5 linked regions of the Homo sapiens genome follow. The protein of the gene in region 4 purifies or fractionates together with the protein of the main gene of each other region. This does not show direct contact. Each region holds a gene or a part of one and is shown on either strand. Other genes may lie near its edges. The genes, in order: TENM3, FREM2, DCBLD2, TAFA5 and SDK2.

Region 1 (4,249 bases), on a different chromosome or scaffold from region 4:
ACGTCCCCCCACAGTGAGGGCACTAAGTGGTGGTGGTGGGGGTTGGGGACCTCTGAGGATGGGTCTGATAGAGAGGGGTTGCAAATATTTTGAGCAATTGTGATGTTTTTATATAAATATTCTTAGTTAGTGGTTTTTATTTTTTATTTATTTAGTTTTTTTAGAGACTAGGTTTTGCTGTGTCACCCAGGCTGGAGTGCAGTGGTTCAGTCATAGCTGATTGTAGCCTCACACGCCTGAGCTCAAGGGATCCTCCACCCAGCCTCCCGAGTAGCTGAGACTACAAGTATGCACCACTATGCCTGGCTACTTTTTTTTAAGAGATGGAGTCTCGCTATGTTGTCTAGGCTTAGTCAGCTGTTAAAAATGATTTGATTGCAAACAACTATGTGGTCTGCACTGTTCTGGTCATTTTTCTTTTTCTTTTCTTTTTTCTTTTTTTTTTTTTTTTGAGACGGAGTCTTGCTCTGTCGCCCAGACTGGAGTGCAGTGGTGCGATCTGGGCTCACTGCAAGCTCTGCCTCCTGGGTTCACGCCATTCTCCTGCCTCAGCCTCCCGAGTAGCTGGGACCACAGGCGCCCGCCACCACGCCCGGCTACTTTTTTGTATTTTTAGTAGAGACGGGGTTTCACTGTGTTAGCCAGGATGGTCTCGATCTCCTGACCTCATGATCCACCCGCCTTAGCCTCCCAAAGTGCTGGGATTACAGGTGTGAGCCACTGCGCCTGGCCTGTTCTAGTTATTTTTCAACTGTTACATCTTTTGTTTTAATGCACCACTTGGCCTTATTATCCTTATTTGGCAGATGAGGAAATGGAATAGAAAGAGAAACAGAAAAGTTAAGTAACTTACCTAAGGTAACACAACTCGTAAAGGATAGAGTGAGATTTTGAATGTAGGTTTTCCTTTGCCAAACCCCAGATTTCCCACTTCAGTGTACTACATGTTGGAGGGAAATCGCTAACGAATTTGGTTCATGTTTGGACAGATCAGTGACTTTTTTGTAAAGCCAAAGAATTCTTACGTGTGAATGATTTCCAGCTAGTAGAGAAAAACCTAAACTATCTATAACCTCCAGGAAATTAGTCATTCTGGCTAACCGCATTTTTCCAGGTTAATGAAGATTTAATATTTTAAAAATAAGCATTTTTATATTTCTGTTGACTAAAAACATTCACACTGTAGAAATTCTCACGTAGTGCATAGAATATTAAACATGCAATGGTGAATTGATAAGGTCTCCCGCACCAACTGTCACCTGATTCCAGCTGGAAGCTTATTTAATGGTGCGGCATTTCAGATGGATAAGAATTTGTTATGCAAACAAGGGTTTGTTCACATTTGATTTTCTTAACTATCTAAAGGCTCTAAACAGTGAGAGATTTGCCCAGAGACAAGAGCCTTTCCCACCAATCAGCAGAGCCTCTCAGTGTTCCAGAGTCCCAAAGACATCTTCATTTGAAGGGTTCGGGGCCTTAATTAAAGGACTGCATTTTGAGGTCTGGATTTCCAGGTTATCAATTTTGGGAACTGAAAAAAACCTTTCCACTTAGAAAGTCATCATGGGGGCTGGGCACAGTGGCTCATGCCTGTAATTCCAGCACTTTGGGAGGCAGAAGCAGGAGGATTGGGTGAGGCCACGAGTTCCAGACCAGCCTGGGCAACATAGCGAGACCCTGTCTCTACAAAAATAAAAAATTATCCAGGCATTGTGGCATGTGCCCGTAGTCCTGGCTACGTGGGGGACTGAAGTGGGAGGATCACTCGAGCCCAGGTGGTCCAGGTTGCGGTGAGCCATGATCACACCACTGAACTCCAGCCTGGGTGACACAGCGAGACCCTGTCTCAAAACAAAACAAAAGCGATGATGGGAAGTTGTCTTTTACTGTTAAAATGGAAAAGTGTGGGAGAAAATTAAATTACGGCTATGCTTTTTCATACTAGGTGGGCCTTCTTTCCCAGTATAGAGTCACCCTTTTACAACTCTGAACTTAAGATATAAAATGAGATGGTCGATTGTTTAGTAATCACTAGAATTCTATTCCCTCCTCGAGGTGTAAGTGCTGTCTTCTTAAATGGGAGAAATCTGTTTAAGTTTCATGATACATGCTGACACTGTGTATCTTACAAGTAAAGATGCTCTCTCCAACTTTGGGTTAAAACATGCACAGAACATAAAATTCTTGGTGACTGTAAATGAGATCTATCCATTACAGTGGGTTACTTTATTCATTTCAATATGTTACTTTGAATACCTGCATTTGAATTAAATGAGATTGCTGGCAGGTGCTGTGGCTCATGCCCGTTACCCCAGCACTTTGGGAGGCTGAGGTGGGCAGATCACCTGAGGTCAGGAGTTGGAGACCAGCCTGGCCAACATGGTGAAACCCCATCTCTACGAAAAATACAAAAACTTGCTGGGTGTGGTGGTACATGCCTGTAGTCCCAGCTACTCGGGAGGCTGAGCCAGGAGAATTGCTTGAACCCAAGAGGTGGAGGTTGCAGTGAGTCAAGATTACGCCACTGCACTCCAGCCTCGGCAACAGAGTGAGACTCCATCTCAAAAAAAAAAAACAACAAAAAAATGTGGTTGCTGAGAATGTCACACGTCCAGACCAGTCAATTGCTCTTAATTATTTAAGTATACACACGACTTTCTTTCATTATGCTCCTTATGAGTCAAACAAATATGGAGTGCAAAGCTTTTAAGACCTCTAAAATCTCTCCATCAGTTGTATGCTGCTGTGAGAGTAGAAATTGCTTTCATGGAGATTTGAAAGGGAAAAAAATTTAAATAACGATGTGATTTAGTGTGCAGTTGGCAAATCAGCATACTTAAAATACATGAATATTAAAATAAAGAATGCAATAAACATAACTACTGACTTACAATTTATTGAGCAACTGACTTTTAAATAAGATTTTTTCCACTCAGACTTTCTTCATAGACCTTCAGAGTCCCTCCTATTGTTATTTTTTTCCAGATCACTGTTACGTAGAGGCTTATCCTACTCACAGAATTTACCTGCATATTTAAATGGCATAATTATTATAAAAAGGCTCTGGGATACCTTTGGGCTCAGTACTTTAGCTGAGAAATTTTATACATAAAATGACACCTGGCTAATAAAAGGAAGCAAATCGGCATTTATTCAGTGTCCGTTAAGTGCCAGGAGCTTCACCGTGTGTCTCATTTAATCACATTGCAACAGTCACAACAGTCCTTTCAATTTGGAGCAGTAGTTGCTCTTAGTTCGGCAGACAAAGAAACCCAGCTTCATGTAGGTGAAGAATCGGCCCAAAGTCACAGAATTTGTAGAGCAAGGATCTGGACCCAGGCCTCTCTGTATCAAAGGCCTTGGCTATATTTTCCCATGAACTCTGCCGGCAGACACGAAACTACCTCTGAAAGGAGAAAGAAAATGATTTTTTTATTTGTTTGTTTTAAACAATAGAGGCTTTATCTCTCTTGTGTCACATTTTACTTTAGGGTTTAACACAAGTCTGTGAACATCCAGAAACACTGGCTTCATGTTGCTCCATCATCCCCAGTAAGAATTATACCAAGAGGCCGGGTGTGGTGGCTCACACCTGTAATTCTAGCACTTTGGGAGGCCGAGGTGGGTGGGTCACCTGAGGTCAGGAGTTTGAGACCAGCCTGGCCAACATGGTGAAACCATATCTCTACTAAAAATACAAAGAGTTATCCGGGTGTAGTGGCACGTGCCTGTAATCCCAGCTACTTGGGAGGCTGAAGCAGGAGAATCACTTGCACCCAGGAGGCAAAGGTTGTAGTGAGCTGAGATCGCACCACTGCACTCCAGCCTGGGCGACAAGAGCAAAACTCTGTCCCCCCAGAAAAATAACAGAAGATTTATACAAAGAAATTTATGGGATTATATGAAATTTTCCAGGCTTCAGGCTGAATAGACCACTTTTATATGGAAGGCATACTTCAGATATCTTAGATAAATGTTTTCTTTGATAAAAAAAATTTTGAGCTTCTCCTTGTAATATTTGTTTTTCTTAAATTGCCTCTCCTTCCTCCACACAATCATTAGCCTCTGAAAAATAAAGATATATTATCTTTTTAAATTGAAGCAAACTTTTATCTTTTAAGATTAATTGACATTATCTAATCTATTTTGTTTAAACGAAGTTCATACTTACAAGAGGGATTGAAAGTGAAGTGACATTTGCCTCTAAATCGAGATAGCAGATGTTGCAAACCCAGTAAATGCCTTAAAA
Region 2 (4,249 bases), on a different chromosome or scaffold from region 4:
TCGAGATCAGCCTGACCAACATGGAGAAACCCTGTCTCTACTAAAAATACAAAAACTAGCCAGGCATGGTAGTGGGCACCTGTAATTCCAGCTACTCAGGAGGTTGAGGCAGGAGAATCACTTGAACCCTGGAGGCGGAGGTTGCGGTGAGCCAAGATCATTCCATTGCACTCCAGCCTGGGCAACAAGAGCGAAACTCTGTCTCAAAAAAAAAAAATCTATCTCTCTCTCTCTATATATATATGTATGTACATATATGTGTGTGTATGTGTGTGTGTGTGTATATATATATTTTGCCAACAACTTGCATTTGAATTCCTGAAGTCACAATGGAAGACTGACTTGACTACTTTTTGTAATGTGCATAAATTTAGCTTTTACAGAAATTATCTTTTCTTCTTACTCAGTAGTTGCCTTTCTCTATTTTAAGTGATTTTTATTGTACTGCTCTTTACTTTTAATGCTAGCTTTTAAAAATTTACATTCTTATTTTTTCTTCTTTCTTGAGGTGCAATACTGACAATTCTTATCTGAGAGGATGATCCAAACATTGGGGAAAATAAAGATCCATAGTAGAAATTCACTTAAACTGTGACAATCATGTAATCAGTGTAGGCAACATTTGGCATAGTAAAAGAACATTGTGCATTTGATAATTATAATTTTAAAAACTTCAACGCTGTTAACATTTTAACACTTTATTTCAGTTATTTAGTTCATTTTAAGGTATTCGGTCATCCAAAAGAACTACATACATGTGATATTTGACTTATTATTCTTAATTAAACCATCAAAGTAATTTTTTTTACATCTTAAATGTCAATGTTGAACCTCCATTGAGAGAAAAATCAAGGCACATATTGTCATCATTTTATTTAGTATGATGCTTTTGATCTTTTGCAGGAAGTTCTTTTTTCTTTCATCTGAAAGCCTTAACATTTTACACAGAAGGGATACTGCACAAATGCTGTGTGGACTTACCAGCTTTCTGATGAATGAGGATGTTAATTACATATTGAAAGTGGTAATGGTTTTGAAATGAAAAAGAGAGCATTATTGGAAGAATGAAAAATACATCTCAGAAAGAAACCTATAGTTCAACAAATTAAAAGAAAGAAAGAAAAAAAGCAAAAGTAGGTGTCAGGGCTGGACCAGCTTTGTTGTTGTTATTGTTCTTTAGCAAACAAAATATTGAAAAAACACAAAGCAAACAAATACCAGGGGAAAGAAATTAAATGTGCTTGAAAGATAGGGAAGAAAGATACTGAGTGTCTAAGGAGCTATTACTGCTGTTCAAAAGTTTGCAAATTTAATATTCTGATTTTTCTCCTAATAAAATAAAATTAAGAAAGACATTAGTGTATTTTGTCAACACTAGTTCAAGAGAGAGTCAGTTTTCTTTCCTTATGGAGAAGTTTCTGATGTACTCTTCCTGATGGAAACTATAGAAAAATATCATGTCCTTCTATTTTAACATGTTTTATCAAAATCAAAATAGTTACCAAAATCTCAAAGCATTTTGTTTCTTAGTATCAAAATCCATGGAAAAGGGGAGAAATCAACATTAAGGGATAATTTGAACCTATATATAATGTTTCCTTAACAATTAAATGTTATTACCATGCAATAGTGCAATCAATTCTAGGAAAACACCTCCAGGAAATATATTAACCTCTGAACTAATGTTAAAGAAGCTCCCATGAGAGTATGTTTTCACAAATGAGCTTTCTGTTGACCTTTTTGTAAAACTTCATATAACGTATTTCAGTTAAACCTATGATGCCTTTAGTGTTATCTCTTTCCTAGAAATGAGATGTTTGGTTATTTTATGTCTGTGTGTGTGTATGTGTGGCTGTGATAGCACTGGTATTTATAGTTTCCTGCTAAATTACGTATTTCTGAACCTTGGTAAACTGAACAGATTGAACGTTTGGGTCCCATTTATTGGCCATACGCTTAGTGAAGACACTTGTTTTCATCCTTTTATTACTGCTGTCATGTCTAGAAACATGAGTTTCAAAGAATGGCAATGTGCTTGTTTTCTGATTAATACAATTATGAAAGTTTCAAATTTGTAAAACATTTACATTTTTAAACATATTATTTTCTTTACTTATTAAAGGACCAAATTGGCTTCCAAGTCAATACTAAATAAGTATTTTCAAAAAGCAGAAATAAAATATCCACCTTTTAAAAGCAAATGTCATTGTATTTAGCTCTATTATTGGTACTTTAAAAAAATTTTAACCTGGGAATATTTTAACTCTCAGCATTGAGATGTATAAGGAAAAGCTCTCTGTGATATTTACACAGGTCCATTTACATTTTTAATGTTGACTTTGGAGTTGGCACACTGGAAAAGAATTAGAGGTAAGATGACTTGATAAAGAAGCTTTTTTGCTGCTTACAGAACTAAATCCCTTCATATTGAGCCTAGAGTTGGTCCTTCTTATCACAAATGCTATGCAGTGGCTTGGCAGCAGGATGCTAGCTGACCTTTATGCAAATTGTTCAAACACTGTGGATTCTTCTGAGAGGGTGGAATTCAGAAGGTGCTAATGCTGCTAACGAGCTGGAAGAAGAGTTTATGTGCTAAGTGTTATTCTTGGAATAAAGTGGGCCTATCTTTTACTAAGAGGAAAAGAATGTGCAGTCCCACCCACAGCTCTACAAGGCACTCCCCCAGTGAGGTTTTGCGAAGGTCAATTTTACTAAGTTACTGGTTTGAATCATTTTGTATAAATCTGTCATCAGAATGATCCATACCCAGTAGGGCTCTTTTAGACAAACAAGAGTGGAGTCTGCTGTTGTTATTCTAGAAAGATTTTTAAATTATGGTTCACAGATAATGACTGTTGTGTTTTTGGTTCAGGAGAGAATCTAATGCATATCCTGACACTTTAGTCCAAATAAAGAGCTGCATTCAGTTATAACCTTCCCAAGGACAGCAAGTGGAGCTTGGTTTCTATGCAATCCCTCAGAATAGCCAATCCTAGGTGAGCACCAGTAAATGTTAACTAAGGGCAAAAATGGGAATAAATAAGATCATCATTAAAATACATATTTCAGTGCTTCATGATTCACATGCTTAGAAGAGCCACTTGAATAATATTTATTTTTGGTTTTATTTTTACTATATAATATCAACAAGACCTTGATTGGAGTCAGAAGCCACTGAGTATCTAAGGAGCTATTATTGCTATATCCTGTTCTCTATGGGAAGTTATTTTATGTATTTGTTCTGATAGTACCAGAATAGTTCTCTAAAAACAAAATGCTAAACATAAGGGTCTATTTTATTTAACAAAAAATTTACCATATTCTTCCCACTAACAAGAGTTTCAAAAAATAATTAATGTATATTAAATTACATACTTAGTAAATAGATATTAAGAAAAATAATGCAAAATCCCAAGTACTTTATATTTTAAAAAGCTATATCTGCCTATTTCCCACAGATTCTCTTTTTTCAAGGGAATAAAGGGAAGGAAAAAGGGAGAGAGGAGAGTAAGAGAATAGAGGACAGAGAAGGATAAATATTTGGTAGGATAGGATAGAAATGTTCTGCATTTTATAAGCTCTCCAATTTATATAAAGTAGCTTCATTAGAATATGCATTGTAGAGTGAAATTTGGTATAAAACCAGCTTGACCCAAAGCCTGAAAACAGACTTCGTACAGTAATGCTTCACCGATTGCTATATTCATTGACAGACTCCAAATTGCATGATAGGCTCGGAAGCTGTTAACTACTAAAATATCAGCAAGTTGATTGAGTATACTTGCTCTAACAGTCTACATCAATTGAACCCAATGGTAAGTAGGGAAAAGTCTACGCACTATTTGAAGTTCCCTAATTCATGTTCATTCCCATACAAATTATGAGGTAGCCAAAGAAGTAGCTAAGCATCTGCCAGAAGGTAAAGCAAAGGAAAGGGGAATGATTAAGAAATTACCACTATTTATCTTGCTAAATAAACTCCTGGGCTACACAGTACTTTCTGTTCATATAAGCCGTTAGTGGGACTTTTGAGCTGTAGATGATATTTTTGTAAATTCTCCAATGAAAGGATACTACAGTCTATTTTTAAAAAACTGAACATGAAGTGCAGAGCTGCCTAAGAGAAGAAAGGCAACTATTGGACATATGACCTCTCTCTCAGTATCAGTGTTGCTTCCTTATCTTGATCAAGAAATGGTTGATACTTACAGACACCAAATTAAGATGTGCACATCTGTTCTGAGAAGTT
Region 3 (4,249 bases), on a different chromosome or scaffold from region 4:
CTAACTCATCTTGCTAAGTCTCTCAGCCTCTCTCCTCTTCAATCTACCCTTCAAAACTGCCACCATCTTTGTACAATCATCTGACAATATCACCTCTTTGCTTGACACTCAAGTGACTTTCCATCTATAGAATGAAATCTAAATTTCTCTCTTCCAGAAAAGCCTTTCCTGATCCAGGCCCAGACTGAACCTCTATGGTTATTTCTCAGGACTCTCCCACGCCAAGCGTACATGCGATGACTCACTATTTTGCCTACATTCCATATCTCTGTGCCTTCACTCAAACAATTGGCTCAGGTTGGGCCATTTGCTAGTGCTATGGTCTGAATATTTGCATCTCTCCAAAATTCATATGTTGAAATCCTAACCCCCGTTAGAAAGTGGGGCTTTGGTAAGTGATTAGGTCATGAAGGCAGAGTCCTCATGAATGGGATTGGTGCCCTTACAGGAAAGGCCTGAGAGAGCGTGTTTATCCCTTCCACCATGAGAGGATCGGGCAAGAAGGCACTGTTGATGAATGAGCCAGACGGCAGGCCCTCACTAGTCATAGTATCTGCAGTGTTTTGATCTTGGACTTCTCAGCCTCCAGAACTGTGAGAAATCAATTCTATTATTTATGTCACCCAGGTTATGGTATTTTCTTACAGCATCCCAAACAAAGACATCTACCTTCCTCTATCTAGCCAACTACAATTCCTTTAAGGCAAAGCAAGCCAAACTTGAGGAGTCCCCTTTCCCGAAGAAAAAACTTCAGTTAATTCTCATGGTTCATAACTCATCAAACCACATGATATAGTTCCTTGTTAGTCAACCCTGCTAAACACTTCAGAGAAAGGAATTGTGTCTCATTCTTTAAGTAAATGTAACTATCATGTGTCAGAAATTGTTCATATTAATGTACATATCCCAGTGTATAATGCAGAACTTGATACAAAAAAGGTACTTAGTAACTGATTGTGGAATTGAACTTATTTATTTTTAATGGGAATAAAGGAGAAGCATGAAATTTTCATTTTAATAATTACCTTAACTCTCACTCTCAAACAGGTAAACATTTTCATCTTCTATATTTAGCTTCTACTTCACATTTGGTAGTTTTGGACTCAGGTGAACTAGTTATGTACTAACCTGTTTCTCCAGTGCCAAGCACACACTAATATGAGAATGAGAGTAGTGAGGACCATGACCAGCACAGGGACAAGAACTGCAGCCAGCGCTACATCTGAAGTTACAAAGACAAAAACAGACAAACAAAAGCCATATTAACACCAAAGGCAGAAATCACTAGGGAAAATTAACCACATCATCTTTCAACATTTTTCTACCTCACGGAAATACCATAAACATTATTTGTCAAGACTGGGCATGTGGTGGTAACTGTAGAAGCTTTTGCAGATACACAAAAGCTTGTTACACTATTCATTCCATCTGTGTAGAGATGTGAAATTTTCCTAAATTTTTAAATCACTAAAATAAAATTGAAAGACAAATGAAAAATTGGGAAAATATATTTTCTACATATGAGAAGAGTTACTTTAAATAATTATTATATTGTAGGGCATTACAAGCCAAATCCAAACATTTAAGAGAAAAATCAGCAGAGATTAACTAGTAATACATTAAAAAATACAAGTAACCATTAAATATGTTAACTTCACTAGTAATCAAAGAAATACAAGTTAAACAACCAACACAAAAAAAGTTAAAACAACAAAATACTACTTTTGCTAATCAAAGTGGCAAATATTTAAAACAACAACTAATTGATGAACAGGCTACCAGGAAACAGTTATTTTTTAATGGAAATATAAACTGATGCTATCTCACTGATTGGCATTTTTGGGCAATATGTACAAAAATCTATTGGCAATTCCATTCCTAGAATTTATTCTCAGAAACTAAAAAAAGATGCATCCTTAAAGATGTTCTCCCTGTTTCTGCGTAAGAGTGAAAAATTGGAAATAATCCAAATGCCCAAAAATGAGAGGGAATAAATCATGGTATCCTCCTTACAAGAGAAAATAATCCAGCAATTGAAATGACGTTACATCATAATGGCAAAACATTCATATATATATATATGGGAAGGTAACAATGTGGTGTTAAGAAAGTCAATTGGAAATGTGTGTGTGACCAGGTCAGAAGCCAGCATAATGCTGGAACTGGGAGAGATTTAGGGATCATTTAATCCCCTAATTTCACTCCAGAGATAAGGAATTCTGGGCCCAGATATAGAAAATGATCTGCCTAAGGTCACTTGGGATATTAGTTTCTTCCTTTGTCGCTCAACCCCCTACTTGCCATGAAGATGATAATAGCAGCACCTGCTGATATTTACTGGGGGCTCAGAGCCGGACACTGCAATGAGTCTAACCTGCACCATCTTCTTTATTCCTTAAAACAACTGTATCCAAAAGAGAGAAAGAGGCTGAAGATACAGGAGGGGGAGAGGATAATCAGTAAGATTGGGTCCCTGAGAGGTAGATCGAGGGGAACCAGGGCACAGGTGATATAATCAGCCTTGGGCAACATAAGGAAGCCCCCTTTTCACTGCAGTGAACAGAGGATACAGATAGGTTTGTAGGCTCCACAAAAAGGGAGTTTCACTGGAAGGAAACTCCCTACTTTCTCTGTGAAGTTGGAGCGGTAACTGAGAGTGGGTGAAGATATCTGGGTGAAGGGCTTGAAAATAAGGGGAATATGTAAAATAGCTACAGTTGAGAACAGACAGAAGAGCTACTGCAGCCTTTCAGAAGGTCAGCCAGCTGGTGCCACGGGCCCCACTGAGGGAGGACCTGGAAACTACAGAGGCACAAATCTGACCATGACATAATCTTTTCCATGAAATCACTCTCAGCCTGGCTGTAAAAATGGAGAAGTCCATAAACAGAAATAATGACTTAGACTAGAAAGCACTCAGAATTCACAACGGTAAATGTGCTTTTTCCATAAGATTAGTGAGACAAGAGAAGATAATCAAGTTTAGATGGATGCTGTGTGATTTAATCAGAGGCTTTAAAACATCTTCTTAGGTTCAAAAAATAAATTTATATACTACCATCCCCCTAAAAAAGAGACAGGAGGTCTCTGAGAAGACCAACTCATTCTTTGTTATTCTTTTTGGGCATACAGGGATCCTAATTCTGGAAGGAAATTATTTAAGGACTCTTTTTAGCCTTGAGGGTCTGAGATGCAATCAGATTTTAAGATGAGCAACACTTTTCAGTGACTGATCTCCATCCAGGCATGTGGTCTGGGATTCTGCCTTAGTACATGCCTTCTGACAACTGGTAAGCAGTTAAAAGATGCTGAGATCTCCTGCCTCTGAGAACCCTTGATTCTCTCTAGCTGTACCTGCAGCATGAGAAAGTAATTCATCTTTGTGAAAATACTTCAGAAGATGGGAAAGAACCAACATGGGGAAAGTCAGAGAAAGTTATCTGAATCCAGGCAAACTTTCAAAAAATGAGAATGACTGAAGTTCTATGTGGCACAAATTACTTTGGATGAACGGCTTTCTCTCTCTGCACTTTCCTGAAAACAAGGAAGCTTTTTATGTGACAACTCTGATACTTAGTCTACTATGACACTGACACTTTTTTGAATTCAATTGAAATTTTGTTTTTCAACAACTAGTAAGACTACTATGTTTTATGTATTTTGAGACCTTATTTATCACTGATAACAAAACTTGAAAGTAAATTCTAATAAATTTCTATTTATGATCTTAAAAAATATAATTGCAAACACTTAAAAAGAGACCAAAGTTTTTTTTTATGAATATGTTAACTATGAGTATTTTTTAACAATTACTAGTTTCTACTAAAAGTTCTGTTTTTATTTTCCCCTTTTTGCCATCAAGTTCCCTATCCATCAAATTAATATATTATCAAGGGAAACAAGTTTGTTTCCTGCTATGATTTCAGTTATTTCTAGAAAATATTGTATTTCTAAGCCTGAGAGTCAACATGTTTAGCTGTAAGGAACAATAAATCACAAGAGGAGGCCTGCAACACAGTGGCCTTCTCTAAATATTTAAAGAGCAATTCTACATGGCAGCAGAGACTACAACTTAGATCAATGCAGTCTTTTCCTATGAAAGAAAATAAATTTTTTTTTTTGCTATACTTAAAAACTATAGTTGGAAGAAAATAAACTGAAGGTTTAAAAATGCCCGTGAAAACTTCAGTTAAGAACAAAACAATACTATGTACTAGGCGTTCATTTCCATGTTTGCATACCTTTGGTT
Region 4 (4,249 bases):
CCTTCACCCTGAGCTGTGCTCCCTGGAGCTGGGAGTGGGGGCGCTTCACAGAGGGGGACATTCAAGGAACTTCATGTTCTCAGCAGCAGAACACCCTGGCTCCAACCGTCTCATCTCTCTACAGAGGCGTCAGAGAGCCATGCAGCTACTGTGTGGTTTTCCAACAATTAAACGCACCGAGATCTGGAAGGAACTGCTGGGTAACTTGCTGGAGAAGGACTGGCTTGCTCCCTTCTGGTAAAACTGGGCTCTGATGAAGCAAAGTGCTTGGCCTTTAGCACAGTTGCCATTGTACCCTCACGCCACAGCCATGGGTCGGGCCGGGCAGTCAGCTCCTCCCTGAAACAACTTCACCACAGTGGCCCTGGCCAGGGCACTGTGAGTTGTGGCTCCAACAGCAGACACACCTGCCCTGCCCTGCCCACCTGCTGGGCCTGAAGTGGCTGCATCCTCTGGACTGAAGCAATTCACATCCACGTCCTAGGGAACCGGGGGCAGGGTCTCTTCCCACCATCTTCCTCACAAACCAATCATGCTCAGAACTGAGGGACATGGTGCCCGCATCCCAGGGCATCTCCAACCCCATCTGGATCCAGGCAGAATGGAACGGAGGGGTGTGCTGGGGAAGAAAGTGTCGCCAACAGCCCCCAGGCGCCTCTCCGCTTGCCAAGCGTTTATAACACGCCACCCTCTCCCAGCAGTGGTTCCATAACAAAAAGGCCGCGGGTGGCAGCAGTCTGCGCGGAGATGTATGTGTCCTGACAGCCCCACCACGGTCGCGTGATGCAGTGGCTGGCAATGCCTGCCAAGCAGAGGGCCACACCAGCACCCACAGCTTCTGTGCCACAAAGCACGGACCCCAAGCCATGAGGGGTCCAGGGTGGCCAGGACCCACAACCTGGCTGAGGATGTGGCTGTACACCCAGTCGCCCATGGCCTCGGGAAGCCTCCAGAAATGCTGGGATCTCCCTGAGCCCCCAGAAGGAAGCCGACATGTCCATGCCCCTAAGCAGTGGAGAGGGTGCCTCCTGAGGCAGGCAGGTACCCAGCTGGTCTCCGTCGCGTACTGGAAGGTACCTGGAACATGAGTCCTTTTCTCAGGAAGGTTGTTAGGGGAGCGGGTGCCCAGTAAACAGCCCAGAGCAAAGCCGGTGCTCCACGTGGGGGTCTGGGCCCCTCTGAAAAACAGCTTCATTATCCTTCCTCAGATCAGGGCCTCGATGATTTGGTGAGGGCCCAGACCCCCTCCTGGATGGCGCTGGGTGGCCAGTGCGGGGTGCCAGGCTGCCAAGGGTGGTCAGGGCTCAACGCAGGAAGGGCTGCCCATGAACAGCCAACTGCCAGCAGGCGGTCTCCTGTGAGCTCTGTGGTCAAACAGATGTCCCCATGTTGTATGAACAACTGTAGGGAAGCAGGGCCTTCCTTATCCCAACCACCACTTGCCGAAGGGATGAACGGGGCAGGCAGGGCCAGCCACAGCCTCTCCAGCTGCCACCCTGGGGCCAACCCCTGGCCAGGCTGAGCACCAACTGGTAGATGCAGGCTGACTCGGCCACAGACACCGCATCTTAGGGACCTTGGCGCACTCCCAGTCTCTTGCGTACAATAGAGCAGGTGATTCACGTCGCTCCTGGTGGAAAATTCCCGTCACCCTAGTCCCAGCCACAACATGCCTTCAGCTGGCCCTGGGGGCCCCGTTGGCGCCTCGAGGTGGAGATGACGCGCTGTGCCCAGCCTCTCAGAACCGAAAGGCTTTTGCTCCTGCACTCCTGTAATTAAACCCCACATTGCTAGGGCATCATGAGCAGCTAGGCATGATGACGGTCAACAACGGGGAAAGGCAAGAGAAGAAGTGACTTCCCTCCTACCCTGGCTCCTGCAGTCACTGCCAGGACCCACAGCCCAGGGTCCAATGGCCCTGCCATCAGTGTGGTCCCCATCCCCACAGCAAGGACAGGACCATCTCCAGACTCCTGTACGTGGCCAGGGCACCCTCCACCCTCCCGCACCGACCTGCTGCTGGAGGATGAGGACAGGGCTGTGGACGTGGGGTGGAAGGTGACGCTGACCACAGATCCCCCTCGTGGTGCCCCTTCTTCTTCACACCTGGACTCTAAACCACACGTGAAGCACAGATGCCAAACCCACGGCCTCAGCGTCCACCCGCCTAAGGCTGCGCGTCTACTGCCAACCATCCACACTGCCTGAGAGCGGGCAAGGCCTCTGCTGTCCCACGCCTGCCTCAAACTCCCAACCACAGAGAAGCAAAGACTCTGGCCACCATACCTCTGCCCAGAACCCGGCAGTGCCCACCTGCCTGTTTTCTGCCTCTTTTCCCAGCCCAGGACCCAGGTGGCTCGCAAGGCCTCATGCCTGGAGAATATAAGGCTCCACCCAACACCCACCTCCAGGCCCTCTGGCCCTGCCCCTTCCTGGGCACAGCCTCCCCAGACCTGGCAGTCAGCCCGGCCTGTCCTGCACCTCCCAGTGGCCACTGCGGCCCTGACAATGGGTCTGCGCTGTGCCATGACTGCAGTTTACCATCCTCCAAAAGCTCCCAGGGAAAACTGCCCCCGCCCACGACCGAGACTTGAGGCTACCACCCTTCACCCCTCTGGCTCAGCTCTGGGGCAGTTCCGCTCACAAACCACCACCCTCTGCTGCCCCCGCTACTGGGCTGCAGTCTTTGATTTCCTGGGAAAGGAGTTTCAGGAGAACTCAACTTGTGGGAGACAGCACCTCTCTTCATAAAGGAAGACCTTGCTTCAGCGAGGCGGGCTGGCCAGGTACAGCCAGGTACTGCATGCCTGGCAAGGGCTGGGTGAGCGCTGGACTCGGACACAGGGTCTCAGTCCTCAGTGCCGTGCTGTGGTGGCTGCGGGACCCAGCACGTGTGTGCTGATGGAAAAGGGAACCTGGCGCGTCTGCATAAACAGCTAGAAAGGAGCAGAAGCAGGGCCTGGCCAGCCCGCCAGGGCATCACGCACCTGGGTGCCTGCCTCAGAGGGCAGCCCTGGGGGAGGGGAGGCTCGGTGGCTGATACTGTGTGTAAGGATGGAAAGCGCCACAGTGCGTGGCTGGTTTGTGTTTGAATCTTTCACTGATGGTTCCGTAAGTTGGATCTCGCATGCAGGTGCACAGGCTCACAGCCCTGCCCTGTACAGGCAGGGACATGGTTCACCCAGAAATGCTTTAGCTCAGAGACAAGGCCGGGGAGGCTGGAGGCTAGAATTCCTCTCTAACCACTGGCCCCCTCTTTTCACAAAGAGAAGCATTTCTGGTGAGCTCCTCATCATCCCTCAATACCCTATTCAAATGCCCCCTCATGGATGCATCCTTGCTGAGGTCCCAGCGGGAAAAAGTGATGGCACTCTGGGGCCCCAGTCTGAATTCCCGCACCTGCAGCACTGCATGGCTCTCTGTATTGGGTGTTTTGAGTTGACTTCCCCATGCACCTCTTCTGCTGCCATGGGTATCCATCTTCTTTCAACAGATGAGTGAGTGAGCAAATGTATGAATAATTAAGAAACCGACCAATGGACAAGTGAGCACAGTCAGGCTTGCTCCGGCATTCCGAGCGCCTGTGGTCACGGAACGCGGTAGGGGCAGCAAGTGCCTCCCCGATTTCAACCCTACTCACATTCAATTCCAACACCGACCCAACACAGCACAAGTTTTCTCTTCAGCAAATGCAATTCACATGCGAGGAAACTTATTATGCACGCAGAGCAAGAAAATAGAAAAGCAAAAATTAAATTAGATGGCAGCCTGGAAAATGCCCACTGTGCAAAAAGAAGCAAAGCTAACTAAGCTAACTAATTTGTTTGGCCTCCCTTGAAAACAGTACGGTTTTAATTTGGGTCTCTGGGACCCGGCTCCTGAGGCACCAGGAGGCTCCTGGTGAGAGGAAAGTGAATGTGGTTTCAGATGAGCAGACCCAGATTCAATTAGTAATCAATTTTGACCCCAACTCTGCCGATAGGCGGGCGGAAGTAATGAGAAGAAAGGACGGCCTGGCTGTGAACTCCTTGGCCGTGCAGGGCACCGCTCTCCCCCTCCCAGTCTTGAGACGCATCAGTGTCCCCGAGAAGGCGCCCCGGCCACCATGTGTTCCAGTGGCTCCAGATACAGGCAGCCAGGAGGGCTGTGGCTGTGGGAGAAGCAGTCCCCTTCCCTGGGAAGAAGACCGCCACGCCTCTGCCCCAGCTCGCCCCAGGATCCAGCTCTGTAGAACCGAGGCCTGAGAGCC
Region 5 (4,801 bases), on a different chromosome or scaffold from region 4:
AGCCTTGCAGAAGGCCTCTCTTCAGCGAAGCGGCAAAGCCAGATCATGAGAGCCCGTTCTTTCTGCTGCCAAAGCCAATGCTCTTTCTACAACCTCACTGCACTTTGCTTGGGAAATGAGTTTGCATCATGTGACCCATCGGGCATACGGCCAATGGTCAAATGTTAGCTTTCAGTATACCCAGGTGATGTCGCTCAGGTCCAGCACCCACCCCCCATCCCCAAAAAAAACCAACCAGGCTAGGCTCAGATAAAATCTGGTGACAGTGGTCGATGTGAAGTTTGTCTCAAGGGAGGAACAATTGTTTCGTCCCTCGTTCTGTGCCATGCCTGGAGAAGCAGGCTTGTGGGCTCAGAAATGACAGTGCTAGTGGCTTCAGCTACCCCCCAAAGGATTAATGTCATGGCCTGAGACTGGAAAAAACTCACTCTCTAACCCCAAAGCAGATAAGAAAGGACCTCATGCCCTAATCCCACCCCCTCCAACACTCAAACCCAGCACTGCCAAGCCTAGGACCACGTTCCCACAATCCTTTGCAAGGCTTGCCTCCAGGGACACACACAGCAGGAGAGGGCTCGATGCTGGAAAACACTCTCGGAGCCAGAGAACACGAGCGGAGCAGCAGGGGACCTGGGCAGCCTGACACGCAAAAAGCCAGCAAACAAGAAAGGCAGAGAGGAAGTGAATCAATCACAGAGACTTTCTCTGCTTCTGACAGGGAAGCCCCTCCCGCAGGAGGCGCAGGGACAGGGGGCCACCTGGCCTTAACTTCAGCAGGAGGGGTGGGATCTTGGCCTCAAGTGGATGGCACAGGTGTGGACGTGGGGCAGGAAGGGACACATGAAGACCCCAAAGCAAGGGCCATCAGGTGCCCTGGGGACTCTATAAGGGCCTGGTCCTAGATGAGACAAGAATTGGTGAGCCACCTGCCCAGGGAAATCATACCATTGTTGAAAAGTCTGTAGAGCAATGAAGTTAGAAGGGTCCAGACAGATGCTGGCATCCCGTCCCTCCACGCCGTCCAGGCTTTTGGCTAGTAACACTGGTTGTCCCAGAGCACAACTGTGAGGCTGCTCCAGGATGAAGGACAACCCATTCCTATTCTGCCAGCATCAGGGTCCTCCTGGGACCCCTCAGAGAGGGGGCCCAGACCAAGGAGACCCCATGCAGCTAGTCCTGGTTTGAGGGAGAGAGGCTCAGAACTCATCTGGTTCCAGACCTGCCTCTGCCCCCAGATCACAGAGTGGCCTTGGGCAAGTCATTTAATGCCATTTGGCCTCAGTTTCCCTATCTGTTAAATGGCTACTAGAATAAGATGACCTCTGAGGTCCTCGCTTGTTCAAAGATTTTATGATGATCATAAAAATAATAACTTTTATTACCCTACATTTATAGGGCTCGTTACAAAATTTCGAAGTGCTTTTATGTAAATTACCTCGTAAAATCCTCCCCTCAGCCCTGTGAGTGAGAGCTGATTATTTTCATCTCTTTGATCTTGGCTCTCTGGATTGCCTGGCGCACGAGGCGGCGTGGGGAGTGGGTTGCAGCCCCCACAGTCCGGACCCCTAGGGTGGGTCTGGCCCCCTCCTGAGCCTGCGAGAGTGAAGGCCTAGCCCTGCGAGTCCTGGAGCTCGGTCCAGGCTTCGTCTCCCTCCGCCCCCAGCAGGCGCCGCTCGGACACCGCTGACACCACTGTCTGGATCGGCGAACCCCAAAGTCGAGGAACCGCCGGTGCAGCCGCCCTTCACCTCGGGGACCTGCCCGGGGACCAGGGGGACGTCTGGGCATCCACCCTCAGGAAGCGGGCAGCGCAGATCACACCTCGGATCCTTCGTAGCACTCCCAAACCCAAAGCCACCAGCCCTTCTCCACCGCGAGGCTGCTCCCGGCAGCCACAGGTCACAGCAGCGAGCGGCTGCACAGACTATCGAGCGAACAGCGGAGGCTGGAGGCAGGGGCGGGGATGCTGGGTGTGGGTGGATGGGTAGGAGGGGAGGCCTCAGACCCTCCCTGTGCACCACCCCCCGGTGGGTCCGCGGCTGCACCCGCGACCTTGGCTCCAGGCCCGCGCAGCGAAGCACCCCCAGCCCCAGCGGCTGGCCGAGCAGCCAGGGGCGGGCTCCCGTACGTGGCCAAGCCGGGCAATTGCTCTCCCCGGGCGAGCAACCCGGCATCCAGCGCTCGCCCACCCCACTCCCTCGCCCCGGGGAGGCCATCGCCTGCCCGGCAGGGGCCCTGCCCTTCCCCGCAGACACCGAGCAGGGAACCAGGAGCTCGGTCTGGGAAGCTCAGCGTAGCCGAGCGTGGAGCCCGGCACGGAATGTCGCTCCCCTCCCAAGCCGGCGCAGGGCAGCCACAGCAGACGGGGGGAGGGGAGCGCCCCTCCCACTTCACCTTGGGCTCTTCTCTGCCTCCCCAGGTCGTCCCCACCTTCCCCCATTCGGAAGCCACAAGTCTCGGAGAGACTGCCCCACCCCCAAAAGAGCCCCAAAACTTGGGAGATGGGGTGTCTTGAAACTCCCTGGAGAGGGCTCTGCCACGGCTAAGCCGGGTGTCCAGGAGGTCACCGTGAGGCCGGCCAGCTCCCGCCGCCCCTCCCCCGCCCACTCTCCCAGCCCCCTCCCTGTCCCCACGTGGGGGTCCCTCCTTACCTTGGGCTCTGGCCGCGCGGATCTGATGCAGAGCTAGCAGTGTCCAGATCAAAAGCCCCCACATGGTGACCAGCCTGGAGAGGGGTCCTCGGGGTCTCCCTTCCCTCCGCCCTGTTTTATAATCCTGGTGGGGTCCGATACCCCGTGGCTTAGTCCCAGGAAACAGTCAGTCTACGCGGCTCCGTGCCCCGGGGTGTAATATGCCCGGGAGGGGCAGCGCTTGGCTACCCCAACCCTTCCTCCTCTTCTGTACTAGTCCGAGCCCGGCAGCGCGCCCGGAAGGCGAGGGGCGAGCAGGGAGAAAGAGGCCAGGCCGCCCTCTCGGACTAGGGCGCCTCTCTCCCTTAGCACCCCAACTCCGACTTCTCCCAAACAGGGCGGCCTCTGCGATCCGGCCGGGTCGCCGGCCGAGCTCCGGAATAAATGGACAACTTCAGGAAACTTCCTCCCGTGGCCACGTTGCCCGCCCCCTCCCCGCCCCCTGGTTGGGTTCTCCCGGCCGACGCAGTCACCGCCGTTCCAGGCGCCGGGCCCCCGGGACCCGGCCAGAGCCGAGCGCAGTGGCAGACGCGGGTGCGGGGGTTCTTTTAGGGGCGCCGGTTTCGGGGGACGCGGTGAGCATAGCGGTCCGAATCTCCCTGGAGCTGAAGTTTTCTTCTCTCTAACTTTGCAGGCAGCATCTGGCGGGGCCGAACCACCCCCTCTGGGCTCCACCGCCCTCGCGCCGAATCGGGAGACGCCGGGTCTCCTCCGGGGGCGCTGGGGCCGGGCGCGCCCTCGGCTCCGCGCCCAGCCGGCTAGCAAACTTTGCGGGTCCCGGAGCCGGGCGCGCAGCCCTGAGCGCCCATGTCCGCGCCAGCCGCGGGGCGGCGGGGGAGGGTGCTGGGCTTCGCGACGCGGGCTGTCGCCGGCGCCCGGGCGCAGAGCCTCCTGCCGGCCCGAGGATGGAGACCGGCGGCTCTGCCCTCCGCCGCGCCCCGGCCGGAGCTCTCGGGAAGACGCACGGAGAGCCCGGCGGGCAGCCCCGGCTCCGGGGACGCGGCGCCCCTTCGGACGCCCGGCGATCGCCGACCTCCCGGGCCGGAGGAGCAACGGCCGCCCCAGCGCCTCGGCCGCCGCTGCCGCTCGCCGAGCCCGCCGCCCTCCGCTTCCCGGGCTCGGCGTCCAGAGAGCCGCTCCTGCCTGCGCCGAGCCGGAGCTGCGGGGGCAGCGTGAGCCGGGGACGAGCGCGGCGGAGGCGGAGACGCGGAGAGGGGGGCCGAGCGCTACCCCGTGGCCGCGACTGGAGAGCAGCCTGCGCGCCGGGAGGGGCGGCGGCGGCGGCGGCGGCCCCGAGCCAGGCCCGGGAGCGAGCCCCGCAGAAATACAATCCGACTGCGCGGCCGCGGGCGCCCAGCGGCTCTGGGACCCGCAGGGGGGCAGCAGTGCCAACCTTCTGCCGCGCCGGGAGAGATGCGCGCGAGCCCCTCCGCTCTCTGCCCAGCCTTTCCTTCCAGCCTCGCTCGCGCCCCTGTCTCAAAGGCCTCATAGGACTCCCAGAGTCTCCTATAGTCGGGAGCCCCCAGCCCCCTTCCGGACATGGAGTGATTGGTGGGGAGGCGGCGGTTGGGAAAAGGGGGTCGGTCAACCGATTGATTCCAGTTTCCCCTTCCCAAGTCAGGCTCTCCAAGGTCTGGAAATGCTCAGGGCGGAGGGGGAGACATCGGGAGGCCTGGGACCTGCAGAAGCCTGAGAAAGTGAAGTTGGTGCCAAGGAGCGTGCGTTCTTTGTTTCTTCTTTTTTCCTTCGGAGCCCAGCTTGTAAAGAGTAGAAGAACCGGACATTGGTGGAGGAATTCAAACAAGAGAGCCCGGAGGCGTCCTCTGCTGTGGCCCAGAGCTAGCGCCTACTCCACGAAGCTCAGCTGGGGTTAACAGGCTTCTGTTAAAATTTCCCGGGCACTGGGAAAATTTCAGGTGCCTTCGCCTCGGTGGACTCCTTTCCCTGCTAACAAAATTATTAAAAATAAGATTTTGCAACTGCGTTGGCATAAGGAAAAGTATATTAATATTGCATATTAAAACATGTTCTTCAGCCTAAAGCTTTACTTATTTTTTTCTGATTTTAAAAGAAATCAAAACATTTTCATGGGCCCCAAAAGACTATGGTCC

The links.
Region 1: the proteins of TAFA5 (region 4) and TENM3 purify together in Homo sapiens (affinity purification with mass spectrometry; one large-scale study listed by BioGRID and IntAct). This does not show direct contact.
Region 2: the proteins of TAFA5 (region 4) and FREM2 purify together in Homo sapiens (affinity purification with mass spectrometry; one large-scale study listed by BioGRID and IntAct). This does not show direct contact.
Region 3: the proteins of TAFA5 (region 4) and DCBLD2 purify together in Homo sapiens (affinity purification with mass spectrometry; one large-scale study listed by BioGRID and IntAct). This does not show direct contact.
Region 5: the proteins of TAFA5 (region 4) and SDK2 purify together in Homo sapiens (affinity purification with mass spectrometry; one large-scale study listed by BioGRID and IntAct). This does not show direct contact.

Annotation. Positions count from the first base shown.
Region 1 is NC_000004.12:182,249,620-182,253,868, forward strand, and holds part of TENM3 (teneurin-3), read left to right. Parts: intron 1-4,249.
Region 2 is NC_000013.11:38,882,371-38,886,619, reverse strand, and holds part of FREM2 (FRAS1-related extracellular matrix protein 2 precursor), read right to left. Parts: 3' UTR 1-4,249. UniProt on the Homo sapiens protein: Extracellular matrix protein required for maintenance of the integrity of the skin epithelium and for maintenance of renal epithelia. Required for epidermal adhesion. Involved in the development of eyelids and the anterior segment of the eyeballs.
Region 3 is NC_000003.12:98,806,953-98,811,201, forward strand, and holds part of DCBLD2 (discoidin, CUB and LCCL domain-containing protein 2 precursor), read right to left. Parts: coding exon 4,242-4,249; intron 1,223-4,241; coding exon 1,129-1,222; intron 1-1,128.
Region 4 is NC_000022.11:48,649,580-48,653,828, reverse strand, and holds part of TAFA5 (chemokine-like protein TAFA-5 isoform 1 precursor), read right to left. Parts: intron 1-4,249. UniProt on the Homo sapiens protein: Acts as a chemokine-like protein by regulating cell proliferation and migration through activation of G protein-coupled receptors (GPCRs), such as S1PR2 and FPR2. Stimulates chemotactic migration of macrophages mediated by the MAPK3/ERK1 and AKT1 pathway.
Region 5 is NC_000017.11:73,641,374-73,646,174, forward strand, and holds the start of SDK2 (protein sidekick-2 precursor), read right to left. Parts: upstream 3,073-4,801; 5' UTR 2,716-3,072; coding exon 2,652-2,715; intron 1-2,651.